3 linked regions of the Homo sapiens genome follow. The protein of the gene in region 1 interacts with the protein of each later gene in a pairwise test. Each region holds a gene or a part of one and is shown on either strand. Other genes may lie near its edges.

Evidence for each region.
Region 2: the proteins of XRN1 (region 1) and WAPL interact in a two-hybrid assay, tested with the Homo sapiens proteins (one large-scale study listed by BioGRID and IntAct).
Region 3: the proteins of XRN1 (region 1) and DCP1B interact in a two-hybrid assay, tested with the Homo sapiens proteins (one large-scale study listed by BioGRID).

What each region holds. Positions count from the first base shown.
Region 1 is NC_000003.12:142,325,944-142,329,600, reverse strand, and holds part of XRN1 (5'-3' exoribonuclease 1), read left to right. Parts: coding exon 1-167; intron 168-3,657. UniProt on the Homo sapiens protein: Major 5'-3' exoribonuclease involved in mRNA decay. Required for the 5'-3'-processing of the G4 tetraplex-containing DNA and RNA substrates. The kinetic of hydrolysis is faster for G4 RNA tetraplex than for G4 DNA tetraplex and monomeric RNA tetraplex.
Region 2 is NC_000010.11:86,438,247-86,441,903, reverse strand, and holds part of WAPL (wings apart-like protein homolog), read left to right. Parts: intron 1-3,657. UniProt on the Homo sapiens protein: Regulator of sister chromatid cohesion in mitosis which negatively regulates cohesin association with chromatin. Involved in both sister chromatid cohesion during interphase and sister-chromatid resolution during early stages of mitosis.
Region 3 is NC_000012.12:1,997,884-2,001,540, reverse strand, and holds part of DCP1B (mRNA-decapping enzyme 1B), read left to right. Parts: intron 1-3,565; coding exon 3,566-3,606; intron 3,607-3,657. UniProt on the Homo sapiens protein: May play a role in the degradation of mRNAs, both in normal mRNA turnover and in nonsense-mediated mRNA decay. May remove the 7-methyl guanine cap structure from mRNA molecules, yielding a 5'-phosphorylated mRNA fragment and 7m-GDP.

The sequences.
Region 1 (3,657 bases):
AGCCTCACAGTGCTAATGAGTACCATAATGTTCAGTCTATGGACAATATGTGTTGGCCTGCCCCCAGCCAGATCCCTCCTGTATCCACACCAGTAACTGAACTTTCTCGAATTTGTTCCCTTGTTGGAATGCCACAACCTGATTTCTCCTTTCTTAGGATGCCACAGGTATAGTATACTACTGTTCTATTTATATAAATTATTTAACATTAAGCTTAAATAAATTGGTTGAAAATGTTTAGCTAGAAAAAATAAAATGGGGCCTATTTTTCTTAACTTTATGAGCAGCATAGATTTATGCTTCTTACCCTAGCTCTAATATTTATACATAACCAAAGCCCTAAGAGAAGCTGACAGGGAGGAACTGGGCAGCAGGTATCCTGGCAAGATTCCTCAAACTAATAGAGCCAGGGATCTTGGCCTACAGTAGCAATTTTCAAACTTTTTGGTCTCAGAAACTTCACACTTTTTTTGGAGGACCCCAAAGAGATTTTGTTTACTTATATCCATATTTACTGTGTTTGAAATTAAAACAAAAAAAATTGGCCAGTTGTAATGGGTCATGCCTGTAACTCAGCACTTTGGGAGGCCAAGGCGGGAGGACAGCTTGAGGCTGGGAGTTTAAGACCAGCCTGGGCAACATAGCAAGACCTCATCTCTACAAAAGAATATAAAAATAAAATTAGCCATGTGTGTTGTGAGCCTGTAGTCCCAGCTGCTCACAAGGCTGAGGCAGGAGGACGGAAGCCCAGGAGGTCAGGACTTCAGTGAGCCACGATTATGCCATTGCACTCCAGCCTGGGCAACAGAGCAAGACCTTGTCTCTGAAACATATATATATATATATATATATATATATATATATATATATATATATATATATATATATATATATATAATATTACAAGTAAACCTATATGTTTATTAATCCATTGTTTATTAAAAATAACTTTCACCTAATAGACATCTGTAGAACATTTCATCCAACAGCTGTAGAATATACATTCTTTTCCTCAACAAATGGAACATTCTCAAGGATAAACCAAATGTTAAGCCACAAAACAAGTCTCACAAAATTCAAAAGATTAAAATTCAATCAAGTATATTTTCTGACCATAATGAAATAAAACCAGAAATCAATAACAAGAGGAACTTTGGAAACTATACAAATAAATGGAAATTAAACATTATGTTTCTGAATGGCCCTTGGGTCAATGAAGAAATTAAGAGAAAATTTTAAATTTTCCTGAAGCAAATGAAAATGGAAACACAACATACCAAAACCTGTAGGATACGGCAAAAGTAGTACTAGGAGGGAAGATTATAGCAATAAATCCCTGCATCCAAAAAGTACAGACACTTCAAATAAACAACCTAACAGTGTGTCTTGAAGAATTAGTTCCAGCAGTCACACTACTGGGTATCTATCTAAAGGAAAAGAAATTGTATAAAAAAGATACCTGATTTGTATGTATATTGCAGCACTAGTCACAATAGCCAAGATGTAGAATCAACCTAAGGGTCCATCAACAGATGATTGGATAAAGAAAATGTGGTGTATATATACACAATGGAATATTGTTCAGACATTTTAAAAAAGAATGAAACCATGTCTTTTGCAGCAACATGGATGGAACTGAGGCCATTATCTTAAGCAAACAACTCAGAACAGATACCACATGTTCTCATTTATAAGTGGGAGCTAAATAATGTGTACATAGGGATATAGAGTGTGAAATAATAGAGACTTGGAAGGGTGGGGGATGGGCAGGGAGTAGATGGTGAGAAATTACTTAATGGCTGCAATGTATGCAGTGTACATAATTCAGGTGATGAATATAAGAAAAGCCCAGACTTTACCACTCTGCAATAAATCCATGTAACAAAACTGCACTCGCACCCCTTACGTTTATACAAATTTTTAAAATAAATAATAACTAGAAAAGCAAGAGGAAACCAAACCCAAAATTATTAGAAGAAAAGAAATGATAAAGATTGGGGCAGAAATTAATGAATTGATACTAAAAATAGTACAAAAGATGGATGAAAGAAAAAGTTGTTTTTTTTTTTTAAAAGATAAGCAAAATCAACAAACCTTTAGCCGGACTGTAAAAGAGAGAATATCCATATGAATAAAATCAGAGATGAAAAAGGAGTCATTACATCTGATAACACAGAAATTCAAAATATTTTAGAGACTATTATGAGCAACTATATGCAGTAAATTGGAAAACTTAGAAGAAATGGATGAATTCCGAGACACATAAAAACATACCAAGATTGAACCATGAAGAAATCCAAAACTTGAATAGAACAACATTAACAAGATGGAAGCGGTAGTAAAAAGCCTCTTATCAAAGTAGACCAGGACCTGGTGTTTTCGCTACTGAATTCTGCCAAACGCTGAAAGAAGAGCTAATAAGAGTTCTACTCAGACTGTTCCAAAAACTTGAGGAGGAGAAAATACTTCCAAACTTGCCAGTATTACCCTGATACCAAAACCAAAGAAAGACACTACAAAAAATGAGAACTACAGGCCGATATATCTGATGAAGTAGATATAAAAATCTTCAACACAATACTAGTGAATTGAATTCAAAGGCACATTAAAAAGATAATTCATCATGATCAAGTGGGATTCATCCCAGGTATGCAAGGATGTTTAAATATATGCAGTCAATAACTGTGACACATCAACAAAATGAAGAACAAAAACCATATGATCATTTCAATACTAACTGAAAAAGTGTTTGATAAAATTCAGCATCTCTTTGTGATAACAGCTCTCAACAAACTGGGTATAGAAGGAACATACCTCAACATAATAAACAACAACAAACCCACAGCTAGTATCATACTGAATGGGGGAAAAATGAAATACTTTCCTTTAAATTCTGGAAACAAGACAAGGATGCCCACTTTCACCACTGTTAATATAGTACTGGAAATCCTTGCCAGAGCAATTAGACAACAGAAATAAATAAAAGGCATCCAAAAGGGAAAGGAAGGAGTCAAACTACTCTTGTTAGTAGACAATATAATCTTATATTTAGAAAAAAACTATTAGAATTGATAAATTCAGTGAAGTTGTAGGATACAAAATCAACATACAATCAGTCACATTTCTATATACTGACAGCAAACAATCTGAAAAAGAAACCAAGAAATTAATCCCCTGCAGAATAGCTACAAATAAATAAAATACCTAGAAATTAATCAAGTTAACCAAAGCAGTGAAAGATCTCTACAATGAAAACTTATTATAAAACAATGATGCAAGAAATTGAAGAAGACACAAAGAAATGGAAAGATTGTCCATGTTCATGTATTGGAAGAATCAATATTGTTAAAATGTCTATACCACCCCCAAGCAATCTGCAGATACAGTGCAACTCCTCTCAAAATACCGATGACATTCTTGACAGAAATAGAAAAAAAAAAAAAATCCTAAAATTTATCTTGAACCGCACACGATCCTGAATAGCTACGGCAATCCAGAGCAAAGTGAACAAAGCTGGAGGCATTATACTGCAAAGTTACATAACCAAAACAACATGGTACTGGCTTAAAAACAGACAGAGACCAATGGAACAGAATAGAGAATCCAGAAATAAATCCACACAGTTACAGTCAACTTATTTTTTATAAAGATGACAAG
Region 2 (3,657 bases), on another chromosome or scaffold:
GTGCCTCACTGAGGTCATCAGAGACTCAGATCATTTCTGTCTTTATTATTTTTCTGTATTTTTTTGTAGAGACAGGGTTTCACCATGTTGTCCTGGCCGGTCTCGAACTCCTGGGCTCAAGTGATCCTCCTGCCTCGACCTCTCAAAGTGCTGGCATTATAGGTGTGAGCCACAGTGCCCACCCCATTTCTCTCTTTAAACTGCTGTCCTCCACATGTTGTCCTCTGCTAGCCCTTATGGTCCCGTGCTGACTACAGCTAGGTGTCTCATCAAATTAAGTAGTGCCTAGCAGTAATAGGGCCTCTTCCTCTATAGTTTTTTTTTTTTTTTCATAGGTGCATTGGCTGGAAATACATATCTTTTTAAGACAACTGTTTGTTTATTTCCCCTGTGGGACCCCATGCCACTCTCACCCCTCACCAGGTAGACTTCTCATCTTGGCCAGCATTGGGTCACAATGCTTTTGTCTGAACCAGTCACTGGCTGGGAACATGGGATTACTGTGAGTGGATTAGATCATCAGGATTCACTTAGGAGAAATACAAATGTCTAGACAATCAGGCTGAGTCAGCCTGAAAGTGAAAGGTTGTGACTATGGGGATAGTCTGCTGCCTTGGGAAAAACAAATATGAAGGGTAAAACTGTTGAAGAAGGGTCCAGCAGAATCATTGTGAGTGTTCTCTTTCAGATGGGGGGTTGGGCATAGGTGGATTATTTTTAAGTGTAAAGTCCATTTGTAAAGCCAGATTTTGAAATGGAAGGCAGATTGTTTTCTAGGAGCAAGGGCATTGAGGGAACAAGAAAGAGTGGAGACCTATAGGAGGGGGGCATTAGTTTCAGCAGGAAGCAGGGGCCATCTCTTTTTGAAGCTGGAGGACTGGAAGAACAGAGTTAATGATAAATGAATGGCTTTATTTGAGCAGGAACTCATGCTGGCTCTGTGTACCTGGGCCCATCTACCCACCCCACGTTTCCTTACTTTAGCCATCTAATTCTTTGTATTGCCTTTTTTTTTTTTTTTCACTTTGTGTATCTAAGTCCTGTGTGTTTTTCTGAATCCATCTTGTCCATCTCTTCCATACTTAACATTTTAACTAACCTAAATACAACAGCCCACTCTGTGTGGCCCCTCTGGGTACCGCCGATTTCAGGATCAAGACCAAAGTTCTCATCGTGGCTCTGGAGGCCCCGCAAGATCTTTATATCCCTTTTTCTTATTTCCAATGACAAGATTTTAAGAGCAAATCAGAAACCCATCACACACAGGAAAGGAGGAAGAGGCAGGCCTCAAAAGCAGTGAAAAAAGGCCGGGCGCAGTGGCTCACGCCTGTAATCCCAGCACTTTGGGAGGCCAAGGTGGGCAGATCACAAGGTCAGGAGATCGAGACCATCCTGGCTAACACGGTGAAACGGTGAAACCCCGTCTCTACTAAAAATACAAAAAAAAAATTAGCCGGGCGTGGTGGTGGGCACCTGTAGTCCCAGCTACTCGGGAGGCTGAGGCAGCAGAATGGCGTGAACTCGGGAGGCGGAGCTTGCAGTGAGTGGAGATCGCACCACTGCATTCCAGCCTGGGCAACAGAGCGAGACTCCATCTCAAAAAAAAAAAAGCAATGAAAATAATATTTAAATTTAAAGATTTTTAGATACTCTGTTTTTTACACACTATAGGTTTAGTCATATTTCAGTCACGTTCTTTCTTACATAATCGTTCTTGAAATTGTGTTATTACCACATATGATTTATCTTGGGCCATCTTTCCCATGCTAATTCCTATTTGTGTTTGCCTGTATCTATCTTGTCTCTAAAAAGAGAATGTTCTTAAATTGTGGGAAATGTTGTGAATTCATAGAGCCCCAGATTTATTTGTTGCCTTGGAGATTATTATGATTAACACCAAAAAGCTAGCTGATACCACAAAATGTAAAGGAAGTTTGGTTTACCTAATGTGTAAGTGAAAAGAGATAGACAAGAAAGCATGTGGTTGTTGCAGTAAATGCTGCTTTGTGGTCTGATCCCATTTTCACTTGCCCTCCATGTCTTCTCACTTTGCAGCTGGTGCATTGCAGTGGTCAGTCTCCTCACTGCTCTTCCTGCTTTGTTGCCCCTCCATTCCTGGGACATTGCACATTGCCACTGGAGCTAACTTACTTCAGAGCACTTACTGATCACGTAGCTCCTTGCCCAGTCTTCCTTGGCTCACAGCCAGGAAGGGGACTCATGACTGTTTAGTGTTGCAAGACCCTGGACTTAAGACTGCTTCTCCAATTTCCAAACCTACTGGACACTTTTAAAATTTTTCAAATAGGCCATGCTGTATCATGCCTTTTCTTTTTGTACCTGCTATATTCTGTTAAAAAATGCTGTCACTGTCCCTCCCATTGCCTCAGAAACGCTGTATGTCATGTTCTGTAGTGTGTTGATAGAGAAGGGTTTGATTTGGATTAATGAGGGGCTTTCATCCAAAATATAGGAGCTAATCATATATTCTCTATTACAGAGGCGTACTTTTCTACTGAGCAGTTCTCCAGAGACACCTTAGCCACTATTTTGCCCACCACTGTGATAGCTTTTGGTGGGAGGATCAGTTTGAATGTGTGTAACTGATATCTTCAGCACATGAGTACTTTAGCAGTGTTTTGATTAGATCTTTTCTGAAGCTGTATTCATCTCATTTTTTTGCTGCTTTCTAATTTTGCGAGTACCCTGGCATGGGAATAGGAAAAAGGGGGTGGGTAGTGGCAAATTTCTGAAGAGAAATATGTCATCTCTCCTTTTTTGCCCCCGCTAACAAAAGTCGAATTGGGAGCTTTTGTGTGTTTTCTTTTTGTTTTTTGGTTGGTTTTGTTTAACCCTTTACCTTGTGTCCCCAAACTTGGGACAGTATACTTTCTTTTGCCCCTTACTACAGGTGAACCTTCCTAAAAGATTTTTTCTTTTTATTCTCCGTAAAACATTTAAAGCATTCTTTAATGAAATAGTTTTTTAAGCAGGTTGTGTAATGTTTTCCATGTAACAGATTGGTTTATATATAGTTTGGCTGCTTCTTGCTAATAATGAAGGGTTTTCTCTCCTGATATTGTCTGAGAATCTATCATAGATGAGGTTAGATTGCCTTTGGAAAGATGCTTCTAGTTAATTCCTGTCCTATATAATTAGTTGAATTCATCTGTGAAGGATGTGAATTTTTCTTTGATCTTTTTATTTCATGAGCAGCTTTGTGAGTACATTCTCAGGTCTAAAGTCCTCACCCTCTTCTCCTATTCCCCCAGGGCCCCCAGTGAAACACACACATACATTAAACAGTGCAGTTTGTTATTTCAGGCCTTTTTCTTTGCATTTATGAAAGTAGGTCGGCATGCTGCCTCACACCTGTAATTCCAGCACTTTGGGAGGCCAAGGTGCGTGGATTACTTGAGCCCAGGAGCTCGAGACCAGCCTGGCCAACATGATGAAACCACGTCTCTGCTAAAAATACAAAAATTAGCCAGGCATGGTGGCACGTGCCTTTAATCCCGGCTACCCGGGAGGCTGAGGCATGGGAATCACTTGAACCCAGGAGGTAGAGGTTGCAGTGAGCTGAGATTACACCACTGCACTCCAGCCTGGGTAACAGAGTGACTGTTTCATTTAAAAAAAAAAAAAAAAAAGTAAATG
Region 3 (3,657 bases), on another chromosome or scaffold:
ATTGCGTTGAGCTAGTTTGTGTCAGACAGTGTGCAGAGTCCCCAAAATTTGCAAAACAGCACTATTTTATATTCCATTTTGGGTTTTTTAGTATTTTGAATTCTGAATTGCTTATTTCTTTAGCACTTGTTAGATTTTATAATACAGTATAATATTAAATCCTCAAATTGTACTTTTAAAATTTAAGCTAAAATACCCCAGGACTGGTAACTAATACTTTCACATAAAAGTCCTCCTTAAAGGATCTAAGGAACATCTAATCTTGTTTTAGCTATTCTCCACATCCCTAACCCTGGACTTTGCTCAGAAAGAAAAAAAAAATCTGGTTGCCCTTGGATAACTATGGAGGGGCCAGGAAAATGCGTGAATTTGGGCAGCTGTAATAGAACAGAAATGTATATTTTCAAAGTCTCTTTTATCCAGGTGTCATAGAGCGCCTGACGTTTTTTCATCAAAAGATCTGAGTAGTGTAAGCTGATTATCTCTCTTTTTTTTTTTTTTTTGAGACGAAGTCTCGCTCTTGTTCCCCAGGCTGGAGTGCAATGGCGTGACCATGGCTCACTGCAACCTCTGCCTCCTGGGTTCAAGCTATTCTCCTGCCTCAGCCTCCAGAGTATCCAGGATTACAGGCGCCTGCCACCACTCCTGGCTAATTTTTGCATTTTTAGTAGAGACGGGGTTTCACCATGTTGGCCAGGCTGGTCTTGAACTCCTGACCTCAGGTGATCCACCCGCCTCGGCCTCCCAAAGTGCTGGGGTTACAGGCGTGAGCCCCTGTGCCCGGCCTGGTTATCTCTTTTCAATGGAGAAACTGAGACATATAATAATAAACTAATTAGCCCAGCATGATCTGGCAAGAACCCCACTACAGGTCCCAGGTTGTGATTACTGAAACACAACTCCTTCCTATGAACAAACTCATATTCTTTGTGTGTAATGCTAAATAAAAATCTTAGTTTTAAGAATTACTTGTTATAAGTTAGAGATTAATTTTAGGAGAAGCATGCCTTTTACATTTTTGACCTTGGAATTTAAAAACTAAAATGTGGCATTAAAGGTTTTTTTTTTTTAATTAAGAAAAGAGAATTTCTGTTACATCAAGGAAGAAAGGAAACAAGTCAGAAGCTATTTAGTTTTATGTGTGCTGATATATATAGATATCCTTATTCAGATCTCTAAGATGAAACAGTCCAAGGTCAGATACTGGAAGACCAGGAGAGTGTTTTGATCTTGTGGGGAGTGATCCTGACTACATAGAGGTTCTGCAAAGTCCTAGTTCTATCACCTGTATCTTGGCTCAGTTTCCTAACAATGTAATGGATAATACCAAATACTTTCTACAAATTTATTTTTAAATGCTTTGTGGACTTGTGAATACTTGCTGACTGAATCAGTTAAACTTTAGGGACAGCCAAAAATTTGTATACTGTTCAGGTAGCATTTACTGTACTGTAGGGGCCATTTTCCTGATTAATACTTTGGTGGTTTGGGTGTAAGTAATTCTTAGTGCTTCAGGTACACTCAGGATATACATTTGTCAGCAGATAGGAATTAACCATGTTTGTTTTCAAAGAAAGATAAGTAATGTTTCTGTATATATATTTTTTCATTTTGACTTGGATATTTTTCAAAGTACAGGGGCAAACGAGCCACATTTCAGAAATAAGGATATGTTTCACAGTATGTTGTGGTGATTTATACAAACTTCATAGTGAATCTAGTTTAAGGATGAACTCCCTGACTTACCTATGCTTTTATGTTAGGGAAAAAACTGGCTAAAGTTGTTTTAATTGTTATTTATTTATTTATTTATAAGAAACAGGGTCTCCCTCTGTTGCCCAGGCTGGAATGCAGAGGTACAATCATAGCTCACTGTAGCCTCAAACTCCTGGGCTGAAGCAATCCTCCCTCCTCAGCCTCCTGAGTAGCTGAGACTACCGGCATGTGCCACCACACCTGGCTAATTAAAAAAATTTTTGTTTTGTAGAGGCAAGGTCTCACTATGTTGCCCAGGCTGGTCTCAAACTGAACTCCTGGCCACAAGCGATCCTCCTGCCTGCCTCAGCCTCCCAGAGTGCTGGGATTACAGACATGAGCCACTGTGCCTGGTCTAAATTCTTTATTTATAATTTCATATTCCATAATAATAAACATCTTGAGATTAAATATTTTGTTACTAGGTAATGATTTTTTATAGCCATTTACTCTTGATAATAGCTTGATATGATTTGTGCCATAATGGATTTTGTTTTCAGGACTTGTAATATAATTTCATGGGCAGAGAGTATGTTGTTGAACTAAGGCAGTGAGTGGCTCTCAAACTAGCATACATCAGAATCACCTGGACAGTTTAATAAAACCCAGATTGCTGAGCACCATCCCCAGAGTTTCTGATTCAGTAGGTTTGGGCAGGAGCCCAAGAGCTTGCATTTCTAATAAGTTCCCAGGTGACGCTGATGCCGCTGATCTGGGGATAACACTTTGAGACCCACTGAACTAAAGTGAATGAGAAATTTGCTGAAATTGCCTGAGCATGTGAAAGGATCATGCCTTGTGTGCCTTTTAAAAACTGCTGTTTTGACATTACGCTTTTTTTAAAAGGGCGTATTTTTCACCAGAATTACAGAGTACTTAAATTTTGAATGATTATGGTGATGAATATTAATAATAAAATATCAGGGGTTTAAATAGAATGCTGAAATTAAACCATGTAAATTGCAAAAGTACATTTTAAATTCTGAATTACAGTAGGTCTGGTTCGTGGTTAGTCAAACACCTGGATACTTACATGTGTGTTTTTTAGTATGCATTATATGGATGAATATTATAATGGCCTAGCTTCCTGCCTTTGGAGAAATGGAAAAGAAATGTGAAGTGACCTAGTTAAACCATCATTTTAACTTTACCACCTCTCCCAGATTTTCTCAGGCAGATTTCTTGAGTCCTAACTTGGTAATACTTGTGTAACTTTACTTCAGTGATCTCGGGTCAGACCTTGACTGTAAATATACTACACTAAGTAGGTGATTGATTCATCTGAGAACTCTGTGGCATCATTGCCCTCTCTGTCTAGCAGTCAAAGTAAAGTTATTGACAGATCATCTGCTCTCCTAAGTCACTGGATATGGCAGGAGAAAATGAACCCAGAAAACAAAATGAAGGATAGTGAAATGCAGACACCAGTGATGTCTGCAGCTTTCTCTATACCCAGTGTGGTGGAAGGAGAAAAAGGCAGCACTCTTCTTTCTAATTAAATCCGCATAGCACACTTATTTTCTCATTGTTTCAGCTAAGGGTATGCTGCTATCCCTGTATTTGGTAAAGAGAGATAATGATGATTTGTTTTATAAATGACAAAAGAAAGACTGCTTCCTGCTGCCTAATCTGCAGAGGCACAATGATGACATAGAACTTGCTTTCTCCTTTTCCTGAGAATAACTCCTCATGTTGGGTATATTTGGCCCATTGAAGTTATATATAATTCCTATTCTATGAGAATTTGTTTTATACCTTTGTGAATTGAAGAGAACATACATGTCTTGTGTGTTTTGTTTTTATTGTTTAGGAGAAAACTGATGTGGAAGGAACCTTATTTGTTTATACAAGGTAAGAGTGTTTCACTTTTATAAAGAAACTAATCTTCAAAATAATATTTTA